Regions from separate parts of the Homo sapiens genome. Here region 1 is linked to region 2. The links come from fine-mapping of genetic effects on gene expression. Tissue or cell type: thyroid. Region 2 holds a variant in brackets; the other region holds the start of a gene. All regions are shown on one strand. Distances are between the middles of the regions.

The links. PIP is the estimated chance that this variant, and not a neighbour inherited with it, causes the effect.
Region 1: ARHGEF10L starts here. The variant in region 2 is fine-mapped to the expression of ARHGEF10L in thyroid (GTEx, PIP above 0.99).

What each region holds. Positions count from the first base shown.
Region 1 is chr1:17,536,403-17,544,579 of GRCh38, reverse strand. ARHGEF10L (Rho guanine nucleotide exchange factor 10 like) reads right to left here and starts at 4,882. Exons shown (of 29, transcript NM_018125.4): 1 at 4,630-4,882. RefSeq lists an enhancer at 7,742-7,791.
Region 2 is chr1:17,587,840-17,596,016 of GRCh38, reverse strand. It overlaps ARHGEF10L (Rho guanine nucleotide exchange factor 10 like), which reads right to left. Exons shown (of 29, transcript NM_018125.4): 4 at 7,538-7,571. Among named protein-coding and RNA genes, the nearest start is that of ARHGEF10L, 52 kb to the right of the region's middle. RefSeq lists enhancers at 5,548-6,113, 6,680-7,245. The variant C/T (reference allele first, on the strand shown) is at 3,912.

The sequences.
Region 1 (8,177 bases), 51 kb after region 2:
CTCACGCCTGTAATCCCAGCACTTTGGGAGGCTGAGGTGGGCAGATCACCTGAGGTCAGGAGTTTGAGACCAGCCTGGCCCACATGGTGAAACCCCGTCTCTACTAAAAATACAAAAATTAGCCGGGAGTAGTGGTGCACGCCTGTAGTCCCAGCTACTCGGGAGGCTGAGGCATGAGAATCGCTTGAACGTGCGTGGGAGGCAGAGGTTGTAGTGAGCCGAGATCATGCCATTGCACTCCAGCCTGAGCAACAAGAGCCAAAACTCCATCTCAAAAAAAAAATTATTATATATATATATACACACATATATATGTATAAAATTTATGGCCAGTCACAGTGGCTCATAATTGTAATTCCAGCACTTTGAGAGGCTGAGGCAGGTGGACCACCTGAGGTCAGCAGTTCAAGACCAGCCTGGCCAACATAGTGAAACCCCATCTCTACTAAAATACAAAAAATTAGCCAGGTGTGGTGGCAGGCACCTGTAATCCCAGCTACTGTAATCCCAGAGGCTGAGGCAGGAGAATCACTTGAACCCAGGAGGTGGAGGTTGCAGTGAGCAGAGATCACGCCACTGCATTCCAGCCTGAGCAACAAGAGTGAAACTCCATCTCAAAAATATATAATAGCAGCCAGGCGCGGTGGCTCATGCCTGTAATCCCAGCACTTTGGGAGGCTGAGGCAGGTGGATCACCTGAGGTCAGGAGTTTGAGACCAGCCTGGCCAACATGGTAAAACCCCGTCTCTACTAAAAATACAAAAATTAGCTGGGCGTGGTGGCAGGCACCTGTAATTCCAGCTACTGAGGGGGCTGAGGCAGGAGAATCACTTGAAACCAGGGGGCGGTGGTTGCAGTGAGCTAAGATTGTACCATTTCACTCCAGCCTGGGCAAAAGAGTGAGACTCCATCTCAAAAAACAAACAAACAAACAAACTATATATATATAATTTACTTAATGATGAATGTATACACTCAAAAAAAATTTTTTTTTTTGAGACGGAGTTTTACTCTTGTCCCCCAGGCTGGAGTACAATGGCACAACCTCGGCTCACTGCAACCTCCGCCTCCTGGGTTCCAGCAATTCTCCTGCCTCAGACTCCCGAGTAGCTGGGATTACAGGCATGGGCCACCACACCCAGCTAATTTTTGTATTTTTAGTAGAGATGGGGTTTCACCATGTTGGCCAGGCTAGTCTCGAACTCCCGACCTCAGGGGATCTGCCTGCCTTGGCCTCCCAAAGTGCTGGGATTACACGCATGAGCCATCGCTCCTGGCCTCAGAATTTTTTATAATGGTTGTGTTTAACAACCGGCTCATAAAATTCCTAAAATTTAGCAATCAGCTCTTATGTGTAGGTGTGAGCTGGCTCCCAACTCACCACTGCCCAGGACCCGGCAGAGGCTCTGTAAGGACCAGTCACTCCTGGGAATGTCATCAGACCAGGGTCCTGAATGAAAATGGCTCTGATGCCCTCCACTGAGGTAGAGAGAAGAAGAACTCTCTGGGACACTGCAAGGAAGGAGCTGAGCTGGGCCCAAGGTGGCACCATGGGGCGGAACAACTCTGGCACACTCAGTTGTTAAAGAGCCTGATTCTCTCCTGGACTTTAGACCCCTTGAGGGCAAGAACAGTGGCCCATTCACCCTTGTCTAGCCGGGTGACAGGAATACAAAAGGCACTGGAGACAGTTGTGCAGAAGAAAGCAAGGACTGAGTGGCCAGGGAGTCCCAGGCTGAGTGCTGGCGCCTTCGCTGACTCGCTTCAGCAGTGACCTTCGACAGTCACTTAAATGCTGTATGCTCAGCTTCCTCATCTGTAAGATGGATATGAACCCATCTCCCTGCCTAACTACTAGGGTGTTGTCAAAACAAAGAGATAGCAGATATGAAAGTACAATATAAATCCACGTTATTATCTTATCATGGCATATATATCATTTACTTTATCTTTTCAAAATTAATCATAGAAGATTACATGTATTCTTTCCACTCTGTTCCTTCTCAGTGTGTAAGAGGTACATGCTTAAAGCATCTAGCCCAACACCTGGCACTCAGCATATACTATAAATGTCTGTTAATTAATATACTATTTCCCCAAGTAACAGTACACTTTTCTCATATATATAATTAAGACAGGGTCTCCCTCTGTCACTTAAGCTGTAGTACGGTGGCACAATCACAGCTCACTGCAGCCTCGAACTTCCAGGCTCAAGTGATCCTCCCATCTCAGCCTCCTGAGTAGCTGGGACTACAGGCGTGCACCAGCACATCCAACTAATTTTTAAAATTTTTTGTAGAGACATGTTCTCTTGTGTTGCCCAGGCTGGTCCCGAACACCTGCGCTCAAGTGATCCTCCCACCTGAGGCTCCTAAAGTGCTGGGATTACAAGCATGAGCCACCATGCTCAATCTTCTTCTTTTCTTTTCTTTTTTTCTTTTGAGATAGAATCTCATTCTGTTACCCAGGCTGGAGTGCAGTGGCACAATCTTGGTTCACTGTAACCTCCGCCTCCCGGGTTCAAGCGACCCTCCCACCTCAGCCTCCCAAATAGCTGGGATTACAGACGTGCACCACCACACCCAGCTAATTTCTGTTTTCGTTTTTGTTTTGAAATGGAGTTTCACTCTTGTCACCCAAGCTGGAGTGCAATGGTGCGATCTTGGCTCACTGCAACCTGCACTTCCCGGGTTCAAGCGATTCTCCTGCTTCAGCCTCCCGAGTAGCTGGGACTACAGGCATGTGCCACTATGCCCAGCTAATTTTATATTTTTAGTAGAGATGGGGTTTCACCATGTTGGCCAGGCTAGTCCTGAACTCCTGACCTCAGGTAATCCGCCCACCTCAGCCTCCCAAAGTGCTGGGATTACAGACATGAGCTACTGAGCCTGGCCATAATTTTTGCATTTTTAGTAAAGACAGGGTTTCACCATGTTGGCCAAGCTGATCCCGAACTCCTGACCTCAAGTGATCCACCCAACTTGGCCTCCCAAAGTGCTGGGATTACAAGGGTGAGCCACCACACCCAACCTCCTCTTATACTAACCTGGTACCTGGGCCCCAGAGCAGTACACCAGCTTTCGCCCCTCCCCAGACTACTCCAGAGTTAAAACTTGAAACAGAATTTGGGAACCATTAGTTATTGGACATTCATTTATTCAGCAACTATGTGTAGAGCACCCACTATGCACCAGGCACTGTTCTGAGCTGTGATCAAGGACAGACATGGCCCCTGTTCCACTGGAAGACTGAAAAAAGCCCCCCGCCCCCACAACTGGGGCAGGAACCCTCAGAGCACTGTGGCTACCCTGGCTCACTGGAGAGGAAGTAGCTCCCGAGTGAGAAATGAAAGAGGTGAAGGATGGGACCCACTTCCTGGATAGAGAGAACAGCCCACAGAGGCTCTTTGGTGGAAGGGGAAGGGACAGGGGGCCTCAGGAAGGCAAGCGCCTGGGGACAGAGCGAGCATCAGATTCGGGCACCCCAGGAAGCCTTCCTTACAGGAGGGTTCTGAGCTTCAGCCTGAGGGCCCGATGAAGGGGAAGGGCAGTCCCCAGCCCACAGTCACAGGGAGCTTGGAGATTTCCGGAGGCTGACCTGCTTTCTAGTCTGTGTGTCCAGGGCCTGAACACCGTGGGGGGCACAGTGCTGGGCGGATGCTGGGAAGAGCTATGCATTCTAATGAGCCCGCACAACCTGCCCTCTCTCCCCAGAACCCGAGGAGGAGCAGATGGGGCTCCCGGCAGGTGGGGCGTGGCTTCCCAGTAGCATCCTTAAGGGAGGCCAAGGACTCTGGGGCAGAAACTGAGCTCCAAAGCCAGTGGGAAAGTGCAGCCCACCAGCCACCACCTCTCTACTTGGCACTGATGCAACGCAGGGCCTCCTGGCTTTCAGGGCCAAAGGAAGATTCGAGACCCCCGCCCCAGGGCCCCGCTTTGGCAGAGGGAGGAAGAATTGTCCCCATGCCCCCTACAGTCAGGCCTGCTCTCCCTCTCGGAGGCCATCCCAGCGACTCCAGGGGGGCTGGTCTTCATCTAGGGCCCTCCCTGACATATATCCCTGTTCCAGGGAGGATCCGGGACTGGCGGCTCCGCAGCCACGGCCTCCGGCTGACCCGGCATCCTCTCCTCCCACAGTCTCCTCCTGCAGGAGGCCGTCCCGTTCCGCCTCTGGGCGGGGGTCCAGGGTGGGAGAGGCTGACTCACCACAGAGGCGACAGGGGCACTCCCTGACTTCACCCGATCCCAGGGACCCCCAAGGTCAGCGCAGGAAGAAGTGGACCACAGGGGAAAGTGAGGCACAGGGTGGGGGTGGGGGTTCCCAAACTGTCCTGACTCCAGCCGGCTGGAGGCCACACACACACACAAGCTGAAGCACAAAGGCCACTCGCCCTAGTAACACCAGAACTCCAGTGACACAAGGAGAGACCCACACAGAGGGGAGACGCGGGCTCGGGGCTCTCACACCCAGACACAGGGACACAGCGGCGGACACGGCCCCCGCCCGCCCACGGCGACACGCCCAGGACACCCGGAGGACCCTGGCGCCTGGAGCGCCTCCCGCGCACTCGCAGACTCCGGCACACGCGAGGATCCCGCGGAGGCAGGGCCCCCGCGCTCACTCACCCACCTCGGCTGCCCGGGCCCGCGCCTTTGTCGTCCGCGCCGCTCACAAAGGCGCCTGGCGGCCGGCGCCGCGCCTCCAGCTCCGCAGGCCGCCGCGGGCGCCCATGGCCGGGACGGCGCCCCCACCGCCGCAGCCGCCGCCACCCGAGCCAATGGCCGCGCCGCCCGCCCGCCCGCGAGGTCCGGGCCCGCCGGGACTGCGCCCGCGCCCGCCGCGCTCCGAGGCCTGGTCCCGCCGCCGCCGCCGTGCGCGACGCGGCGCCGCCCCCGCCCGCCCGGTCCCGGGGCGCCGCGGCTGAGGTCACCGCTTAACCCCTGGTGGCCGGGGCAGCGGCCGCCGCGCCCCCTCCCTGCTCCCAGCGCGCCGCGAGGGAGACGTGGCCTCCCCCGACCCGCTGCGAGCCCCCAGCGGTCCCGGCAGCCCACCGGCCCCCCACAGTACAGGGGGGAAACTGAGGCCCGCGGGGATGGGGCCCGGCCCCGGCCACACGGCGACCTCCTCGCTCCTTCACCTACCCCGGGGTCCCCACTTCCCGCCTCCCGGTTCTCCTTCCCCGGTTCTCCGCGGGGAGACCCCGCAGGCGCGCAGGGTGCTGGCTTCTCCTCCCCCACTTCAACATTTTGCCCTGAGGTTCCCCCAAAAGGGTGAGAATCCTGGACCGGCCCCAGGGGAAACCCTAGACTTATGACCTGCCCCTCAACCAGTCTTGGCGGCCCCGTATTGCCCCCCACCCCCGCCATGGCAACATGGGGAACCTTGCAGCCATGCAGCCAAACCTCCAAGAACAACCCTGGCGGGTTCAGGCATTGACGGCTTTGAGACCGGCAACACCCCAGTGATGTAGCCCCATTTTCCCTAGGAGAAAACTGAGGCTCAGAACTGAGAGTAACTTGGCAAAGCTCACTGAGCAGCAAAGTGCTGAGACTGAGATCCTAGCATTCCCCTGCCTTTGCAGCTCCAAAGCTGCCAAACACTAGGTACTCCCTCCTGAAATTCCAAAGAGGGCCTCTGGATATGATGCAATTAATTACAGTTATCAGGTCATTAATTAAGATTATCCGCGTTGTTGTTAAACACTCCCCCGCTACCCCTCTATTTGCAAGGAAATTCACACGCGGGCTTATCAGCAATTACTCCTGGGTTGATAATGATAAGTTCTGCAGCCTCCAAAGGGTACAGGTGCACGTAGGTTGAAATCATTTTCAGCTTGTGTTCCTTACAGCCCACAGCCAGCAAAAACTTTTTTTTTTTTTTTTTTTTAACTACTCCCTATTTGTCAGGCACCAGCCTCAGGGGCTACCAGTGAGACAAAGAACCAGACAGACCCCAGCCCCGCCCCCTCGGAGCTCATAGGCTTAGGAGAAGACGCAAATAAACAAACGGCTACAGTGCAGTGAGACAAGCCACACAGGCCACGCACTGAAATCATCTTATTCACCGACTTGTTGGTTTGTTTATTGTCCCTCTCGACACAAGAACATAAGCACCACAGAGTTGTCCTGAGCCCCAGGCTAGGGCAACACTGGCTCATAGTTTAAGTAGGCAGGAGATATTCTTTGAGCATTTTTGCTCTGTTCCAGACATCGTTCTAGGCACGCAGGAGACACCAGTGAACACAACAGGCACGGCCCCTGCCCTGCTGTGAATAAATGATGGCAGGACAGCAGACAGGAGAGGTTTGGGGATGCTAGCAAAGCAGGAAGAAGACTTCAGATGTCCATTGAGTGACCTCAGGCTCATGGCATTAAGCTTTGGACCAGAAATGGACTTTTGAGTCCTGCCGTCATAGCCAGAGCCAAGTACACATCCCAGACCAGCATCGCGGTCTTTCACAGTGTACTCCAACCCCTTCCTTGGCTATGTTTTTTTTCTTTCTTTGTTTTTTTTTAAGAGACTGGGTCTTGCCCTGTGGCTCAGGCTGGCACAATCAGCTCACCGTAACCTCAAACTCCTAGGCTCAAGCAATCCTCCTGCCTCAGCCTGCAAGTAGCTGGCACTACAGGTGCGGGCATGGTGGTGCCTGTAGTGCCTATATTGCCAGGTAGCCATGCCTGGCTCATTTTTTTTTTCTTTTCTTTCTTTTTTTTTTTTTTTTTTTTGTAGAGATGGTGGTCTTACTATGTTGTCCAGGCTGGTCTTGAACTCCTGGGCTCAAGAGATCATCCCATCTTGGCCTCCCAAAGTGCTGGGATTACAGGTGTGAATCACCGTGCCCGGCCTTCTTTATTGTCTTATTTCCCATCTGATCCTGAAATGTCTGACGCCTCCAGCTCAGGATGCCCCTTACCTTCTTTGGTTGTACTAAGTCTTACCCTCCTGTCTGAGAACCAACACAAGGCCCAGAATCTCCAGGAGGCCTTTTCACATGGCCTCCTCCATTCCCTGACCTCTCCCTCCTCTGAGCTCTATAGCACCTAGTCCTTTTGTTGTAAGTTGGCTCTGGGTGCATAACTGATTTGACCCATCTAGCTTGAGGGCAGCTATGATACAGCCTTGAGGGCAGGGGCCATGCCCCAGACCCCCGTTGTGCCCTCAGAGCCCAGCACAGGTTAGGGGCACACTCTTTAGAGGATCGTAATGGATTCTAAAGGACACCCTAGAACCCTTATCAATATAACCCTCTGGGTCTAGGGTTCCAAACCACCTGCTCATAAAACAAATTGAGTCTGCAGAAGCATTTTGTTTTGCCCACAGTGGTTTTGTTGTTGTTAGTTGCCATCATTTAATCATTGGGAGATTTCCCATAAAAAGTCAGATTGCAGCCAGGAGCAGTGGCTCATGCCTGTAATCCCAGCACTTTAGGAGGCCAAGGCAAGAGGATTGCTTGAGGCCAGGCATTTTAGACCAGCCTGGGCAACATAGGGAGACCCCTGTCTCTACAAAAATAAAATAAAATAAAATAAAATAAAATAAAAATCTAGCCAGATGCGGTAGTGCATGCCTATAGTCCCAGCTACTCAGGTGGCTGAGGTGGGAGGATCACTTGAGCCCAGGAGTTTGAGGCTGCAGTGAGCCATGATCCCACCGCTGCACCCCAGCCTAGGCAACAGCATGACTCTGTCTCTGAAAAAAAAAAATTAAAAGCCAGATTTCTAGCTTCTCTTAACAAATCGGAAGATCTGATAATGCCAGGTCCACATTCCCCCAGGGCCACACTCTGCAGGGCCCCAGGAGTGGTGGCCCTTTAGACACAGCTGTGCTCTCCACTTGTCAACGTCACTCGCAGCCCTCTGTCACTCCTCTGATTTAAGGCCCCTCCTCTGTGATAGTGTTTTGATTTCATTTTCCCTCTACTCTCCACTCTGGCGAGAAAGAGTGACATCACAAAACATATGCTGGAAAATAAATAAACCTGCAGCCCTCACAGTCCAGGCCAGCCCTCAGCAGGCCACATCTTCACGTATTCTTGCCCTCTTGACATGCACCCGCCTCTTCACTCTCACTTCCCCAGAAGCACATTCTTGTTTTTCTTTTTTGGTGATAGAGTCTTGCTCTGTCATTGAGGCCAGTGTGCAATGATGTGATCTCAGCTCACCGCAACCTCCGCCTCC
Region 2 (8,177 bases):
ATATGACTGTGGCTCAGCCACTTGGCTGTGTGCACCGGGACAAGTTACTGAATGTGGACCAGGGTGAAGTATCAGTCCTACTTCCAGCTGTGAGGATTCAGTGAGATGATGCAGATAAAGCACTTAGCATTTCTCCGTGCCTCAGTTTCCATATCTGTAAAATGAGGCAACACTACCTCCCTCGCAGGGTTCTGGTACGGAGTAAATAAAGAAGGCATGTAAATCCTCTGGCACAGGGGCTGGCACGTGGTATGGCCTCGTGTGTGCTGCTTCCCCGCCCCCTCCTTCCCTCCGCCTCTCCTCCAGGCACGGGGGCCTCACCTGCATGTGTTCCCTCTTCCCTCTGTGGCCGCCCATCCTGTGCACAGAGGGCTTCCAGGACCCCGTGTGTCTCTCCTGTGCCACCCCACACATGGTCACAGATCCCCTTACTGGATGAGTAGAGAGCAGTGAGAAGCCCCCCAGGGGAAGTCTCAGAGCGGCCCTCAGGTGGCATCATATCACAGACCTCAGCAGGGAGTGAGCGTCGAGGCCTCTGGGGAGCCATCTCTGTACAGGTGGCCCCCCACACACATGCTGGGCCAAAGCCCAGCCTCTGGCCTCCTGCTCTGTGGCAATGCACCTCCCTCCCTGACATCTCAGGGGCCCCAGGGCTTGGTCAGACATGGAGAGGCCCTGCACCCCTGGCAAAAATGTATCGAGAGCCATGTGGGTTGTTGCAAAACAATACAAGTTCCCCTGGGGAAATGCTCATGATATGTAATTAGCTTTAAAAAAAAAAAAAAAAAAAAAAAAAGGTGAGCCACGAAACAGCATGTGCAATAAACCACAGTTCTATAAAAACAATCATGCATACTTGCATACATGCCTAGCAAAGAAGCTGGACAGAAACACATCATGGTAGGATTAAAAGTTGCTTTTAGTCTATCATTTTCTGTACTTTCTAATTTTTCTACAACAAACTGTATTTTTTTTAAAAAGGAAGAGAGAGGAGGAGGTAGGGAGGAGGGATGGACTGAAGAGCATCTCAGGTAATGCTAAGCAATGCACAGGCCAGGGAGGGGTCCCTTGTGCCTGGAGTCAGCCCCAGACAGCTCCACACCCTTTGGAGACAGTGACAATGAGCAGCTCACCGAGTAAGCACCTAATCTCTCCCATCTCATTTCATCCCCACCAACAGTGCCATCCGGTGAGTCTCATCACCCTGCTTTACAGAGATTAGCAACTGAGGGGGCCGGGTATGGTGGCTCACACCTATAATCCTAGCACTTTGGGAAGCCAAGGCAGGCAGATCACTTGAGGTCAGGAGTTTGAAACCAGCCTGGCCAACATGGTGAGACCCCGTTTCTACTAAAAATAGAAAAAAATTAGCCGGGCATGGTGGCGGGTGCCTGTAATCCCAGCTACTCGGGAGGCCGAGGCAGAAGAATCACTTGAACCCAGGGGGCAGAGCAGAGGTTGGAGTGAGCCAAGATCACGCCACTGCACTCCAGCCTGGGCGACAGAGACTCCATCTCAAAAGAAAGAAAAGAAAAGAAACTGAGGGTTAGGCAGAGAAGCCAAAGAGCATGTCCTGGGTCATGCAGCTAACATGTAGGGCAGGCGGGATCCAAACCAGCTCTGTGTGGGAGACGGTTGCACCAGAGGGATTAGAACACAGGTTCTGGAAGCCAGCTGGGGTTAACTCTGGCTCTGCTCATCTTTCTCTGTGACCTTGGGCTGATGTCATGTCCTCTCTGTGCCAGTTCCCACATCTCTAGAATGCAGATTGTATCAGCGCCTGTCCTGTGAGAGTGTTGCAAGGATGAATGGCACTGGGGAGGGAAAGCTCTCAGAGCGCAGCATGTAAGAAGTGCTGGGTACATTCAGGCCATTATGATCTGGCCCTAGAGCCAAACACACACACAGGCACATAAAAATAACATGGCCTGGCAGAGCATGTCAGCCCCCATCGCAGTCACTCAGTAAAGAGGTGCTGGGTGAAAGGACAGGAAGACGCAAGGGAAGGGCAGGGGAATACCGGCCAGTCAGCAGAGCACCATCCTAGATGCACAGAGAGGGCCATAGAGAAAGGGCAAACAGAGCCCCTGGCCTGAGGCTTTGAGCCCAAGCACCATGCCTGCCAGCCCAGCCCCACAGACAAGTGACGCTCTCTCCCAGGTCTGGTCTGCAAAATGGTGCCCACGATAATTTCCTCTTTCCAGGGCTGTCGTGTTAGTTTCCTATGGCTGCTGTAACAGATGACCACGAACTTAGTGACTTACAACACAAATCTGTTCTCACAGGTGTGGAGGTCAGAAGGCCATCAAGGGGTTCGCAGGGCTAAAAGCGAGGTTTCGGCAGGGCTGTGCTCTCACTAAAAGCGAGGTTTCAGCAGGGGCAGCTCCAGGGGAGAAGCCATCCCCCACCTTTTCCAGCCTCGAGAAGCCACCTGCATTCCTTGGTCACAATCCCGTCCTCCATTTCCAAGGCCAGGAGCGTGGCATCTTCCCACCTCTTTCTGACTCTGGCCCTCCTGTCTCCCTCTTGTCACAACCCTTGTGGTGCCACTGGGCCCACAGATAACCCAGGGTCATCTCCCCATCTCAAAACCCCTCACTTAATCACATCTGCCAAGTCCCTTTGCCACGCAGCGTCACAGATTCACAGGTGCTGGGGATGAAGACACGGAAATCTCCAAGGGGTGGAAGGGCCATGATTCTGCCTCCCACAGTTGTGAGAATCAAAATGAGATGTAAACTGTAAAGTCCGTGCACGTGTAGGCTGTTAGTATTGTTGCACCATCTCTGCCAGGCACTGGGATAAAAAACGAGTGAGGCAGAGTCCCACCGCTGCAGGGATGCAGGGAGGAACGTCACAGGATTCCTTGAAGGCATATTTATACCATGAAGAGATGTGCCAACCAGGTACCCTGCAAGTGCCTTCTTCAATGAAGAGGCTGTGGGGGTCCTCAAAGGGCCTGGGATCCAAAGGTCCTGGCTCTGATTGGAAACTGGGAGCCCTTGTTTCTACCCTCGGAGAAGGAAAAGAAGGAAAGAAAACACAAAAACCAGCTTGTCCAATTTATGGATTTGGCAAGGGACCTTTAAAGAAAGATTTTTAATGGAAAGAAAGACCTGGTCCCCATAACCCTCCCATGGGGGACTCCATGGGCGGAGAGCCGGTATCTGCCATGCCTCACGTCCCGCATGGACCCTGCGGGACAGGACGCAGGAGGCTCAAATGTTCCGGATTTGGGAAACAGCACATGTAAGGAGAAGCCCAGGATTCCAAACAACTCCAGACTAGGTCTGCGGCAATCTGGGAAATCTTGAAGATTTCCTCCAGACGCTGCGGACCCACTCCGGCCTTGCTGACCTGCCCTTCCCATGAGCCCCTATGTCCCCCACACCTAGCAGTCTCAGAAGCCACAGGCCACCAGCGCCCTGTTTCCATCCTGTGCCAATACTGCTTTGCTGAGCCTGGTCTCCTCTTGCCCTGATCCTCTCAGCCCCTGATACATCCAGGGAAGATGAGTCTCCCTGTCCTCTCCCAGAATACGGCTGCCCCATCACTTCCCCTGGCTCCAGGCCCCAATGAGAGACACTAGCCAACAGGCAGTACAACCATCTTATCCAGAAAAGCCCAGGAAGGGGTAGGCCAGGTACCTTCAGGGAGCCCATGAGAATCCCTGCGACCAGGGCCAGGAGCCAAAACCCTGACCCACAGAAAAGTGCTGAGGTCACAGGGGGATAAAGGCAAAACTAAACAGGAAAAGCAAACAACTCCAGAGGGGGCCAGAGTCCATGGGGCTATTGCACTCAGAGGTGAGGGGTGCAGGCCTGAGTCCAGGAAAAACACAGGAAGCCAGCGATCTGTGGCGCTCACGTTTCCCAGGCACTGCTGGGTACTCAGGGCTGCTCTTTCAACCA[C/T]GACTCCCCCAGCGAGAGCTCAGGGTGGACATGAGTGCACGTGCTTCAGAGTCCACCAGGAGAAGCAAACCCTGTGGGCCTCAGTAGACAGCTTTGAGGGCAGACAGGCCTAGTCCCAGCCCTGCCATTTACTAGCTCCATGAGATTTGGGTAAATTACTTCAGTTCTCTAAGCCTCAGCTGCTCATCTGCAAAATGGGCATATTCAATAGTACCTGTCTTCTAGGGCTCCTAGGGGTACAAGTAATAAGATAATACAGGCCAGATGCAGTGGTTCATGCCTGTAATCCCAGCACTTTGGGACACCAAGGCAGGAGGATTGCTTGAGCCAAGAGTTCAAGACCAGCCTGGGCAACAGAGTGAGATCTCCATCTCTACAAAAAATATGAAAGTTAGGCCAGGCGCGGTGGCTCACGCCTATAATCCCTGCACTTTGGGAGGCCGAGGTGGGTGGATCACCTGAGGTCAGGAGCTCAAGACCAGCCTGGCCAACATGATGAAACCCCATCTCTACTAAAAATACAAAAAATTAGTTCGGCGTGGTGGCACACACCTGTAATCCCAGCTACTCAGGAGGCTGGGCAGGAGAATCACTTGAACCCAGGAGGCAAAGGTTGCAGTGAGCCGAGATGGCGCCACCACACTCCAGCCTGGGCAACAAGAGCAAAACTGTCTCAGAAAAAAAAAAAAAAAAAAAATAGCCAGGCATGATGGCACATGCCTGTAGTCCCAGCTACTCGGGAGGCTAAGGCAGGAGAATCGCTCAAGCCTGGAAGGTCAAGGATGCAGTGAGCCATGATCACACCACTGCACTCCAGCCTGGGCAACAGAGTGAGACCCTGTTTCAAACAACAACAAAAAGAGATAATGTACACAGAGCACTTAGCACAGCCTGTGGCTCAGCACAGCACCATCAGCACCAGTGAGGTCAGGTGGCTCTAGCCATGTGGCCTTGGGCCACACAACCACTCTGCGCTTCCCTTCCCTGGCCTCTGTCTTGGCCTCTACAGCTGCCAGAGTCAGAATCCAATAGAAACCCTATTGACATGCCATTCATTTGGGGGTAGAGGGGTGGGGTGGTATTCTTTGGTTGGTTTTGTTTCTTTGTTTGTTTGTTTTTGAGACAGAGTATCGCTTTGTCACACAGGCTGGAGTGAAATGGCGCAATCTCGCCTCACTACAACCTCCACCTCCCAGGTTCAAGCGATTCTCCTGCCTCAGCCTCCCCAGTAGCTGGAATTACAGGCACCGTTCACCAGGACCGGCTAATTTTTGTATTTTCTGTAGAGACGGGGTTTCACCATGTTGGCCAGGCTGGGTCTTGAACTCCTGACCTCAGTGGTCCACCCACCTTGACTTCCCAAAGTGCTGGGATTACAGGCGTGAGCCACTTCACCAGGTCTGACATGCTGTTTGCTTTCTCCTTGCTTCCATGGAACACAGACCCTCCTTGTCCTTCTGTCCATCATTCGTTCACCAAGGACGTCTTTGGCACTCACCCCGTGCCTGCCACTTAAGCCATGAGGTTTGGCAGCAAACAAAACATCCCCCTCCAAAAAATCAAAAAGTCCCTGTCCCCATAGAGGCAACTGCTGGTGGAGAGACACACCTGCACACCCCTCCGCCCTCACAAGATCTCTGTGTTGGGGGAGCGAAGAGCCGGCTCTTTTTGCTCTGCTCTCATGTCAAGGGAAGGGACCTCACCAGGAATCACACACCAGGCACTGCCGCACAAGCCTCCCCGGGAGGGACCTATGGAACATTCCACCGACTGCTTAGACGCCACTCTCCCAAGAGCTCAGAGATCATCTCTGAGTGGGCAAAAATCTTTCCTCAAAAAATGTACACACAATCAGATCATTCCTATGAAGCCAGCCACACCCTCTCATCAGGGACCAGCGCATGAGCTCCTGGAGGCAGAGAAGCACGGTGGCCCAGCGCCTGGCCTCGGTGTCAGAGGGGCCTTGGTCTCTCTTCTGAATGAGCATCTACTTATCTACATGGAACCCTGAGCACATCACCTAACTCCTGGGGTCTCCAAGAGGGTAGCTTGAAGGAAGTGAGTGTGCTGACCACCCTGTGTGCCAGCCCTGTACCTCTGCTCAGGGGCTTCCTCAGCAGGCACTCCCCCTGCCCCTCTGCCATCCTGAATGGAGAATTTCCATTCACTCGCTGAGCCAGGACCTGGCCCAGAAGTCTTCCCTGACGACCCCATCCTTGCTCCCCTCCAGTCAGTGTCCCAGCTCCCTGGGCGTCCGTCTCTGTCCCACTCTGACGCATCTGCATCTCCCACCAGACTGAGTTTCTCCACAACTTCACCCCTGGCCCACCCTGGAGATATAAACCCTTGGAAGACTGCAGCCATCACGGCCCTTCCCAGCCCAGGTGCAGGACGAATGGCTGCTGATTCATTTCAGGTCCCTAATCAGGAAGGAGAGGCTGGCCTCTAATTCTCACCTTAATTACATAGTAGCAAGCTCAGGAGAAACCCTCCCCAAGTCCACCCACTCTGGACAGCAAATGAGCACATGAAGGACTTCTCCTCTGGGGGCCTGGGCCTGCAACCTGCATCTCTGAAACCTCCCGTTGGGTGACACCACCCTGAGAATTAGCCCCTCTTGCTCAGTTTGGGGCACCCCAGGAAGACAAAGCAGGGCTCAGACATGCCTCCCCTCACCAGGGTAGTGAGGATTTAAACTCAGGGTTCCAGATGCTTGGGCCATTCATTTGGAGCCTAGACCCCTCCACTGCTTAGGCAAGGAGGCTCTAAACACCTGGTCCTGAGAGGCCTCAGCTCCCACCACCTCCAGTTACCCAATTACCCTTCCAACCCAGACCTGACTTGCAGAAGACAAAGAAGAACTGTGATAAAAAGCAAATGCCTTGATTAGGCACCTACCACGAGGCTGGGCATCTTACCCGATAGCCCATTTTACAGATGAGAAAACCAAAGGGGGACTTGACTGACATGAGGACCTGTGGCCAGTGTGGGGGCCACAGCCAAGACGCAGGCCCTCACCCCAACATCCAGGCTCCTAACCACTAGGCTACACTGCCTCTGACAGGCTCCCAGGCACAGAGGGCAGGGTCCCTAATAGCAACTGTCATAGGAATGGGAATGATATTAACAAGACAAATGGCAACTGCAAAAATAATTACAATGGGCTGCACCCCCCCCACCCTCAAACCCCCCCAACCTCCCCCACTACACACACACACACACACACACACACACACACACACACACACACACACACTGGGGACCCTCCAGCTGTTTGCTTCTCCAAGACAAACCCAACAGAGGGGGTGCTCTCATTGTTTCCCCTTCAGCCGCAAACAGACTGACACTTGGAGAGTTTCTGTGACTCCTCCAAGGCCACAGAGGTAGGGTTTGGAGCCAGGCCTGCCTCCTGCGGTTTCAGAGGTTTGTGGGCAAAATAAAGGAAAAAGTACCATGAGTTTCTGGAACTGACCTCTTCCCCCAGGGCACAGGGCCTCAGTGAAATGCTTTCCTCCTTAGCCAAAGACCAGTCGGGTCCTCTGGGCCTCAGCTCCACCCCATCCCCACCCACTGCCCGGTGTCTCCCTGTTTCCAACCGCCAAAGCAAAGGAGCAAGGTTCACTTACCCTGTGCCGGGTGGAGCAGCTGCTGGGTCTGGGTCTGCAAAAGAAGAGCAGACAGAGAGCCTGTCAGGCCAGAGGCTGGCCCCAGGCACTCAGGCCTTCCCCGCCCCTTTCCCAGCCTCCCCAGGGGCGCCGCAGACAGGGCCTGGCCAGTCTGGGTGCCTGCTGAGCCCCGCCTCCCTCCCCCAGCCCTGGCTCAGTCATCAGCTCCCCTACCTGGCCTGCACCACCCCCACCCACCCCGTGGCCCACTTCCCAACTCCAGCCAGAACCCGTGGCAGCCACCCTGCCTGCTCTGGGCCTGCCCTCCACCCCCAGCTGCTCCAGGAGCCCGCTGTCCCCAAGCCTGCAGGAAGTTCCAGCTGGTCCAGTCCCCAGATTCTCTCTCTCAGATAACAGACTCTAAGAGCCCAGAAGCTGCCATTTAACACCAGCTTATCAGGGCCCTCCTGCCCCCCAGGGTTGCCAGCTCCCCAAGGCAGACAGGAGAGGGAACCTCTGGGAGGCTGCTCTTCTGGCTGGTGTGGATTCTTTAGGAGAAGCTGCAGGGAGGACTTCAGAGACACAAGCTCTGGGCAGCAACTGTCTCCAAAGCAAAACTCAGGCCAACCACTTCCATTTACAATGTGCCAAAGTGCGCCAG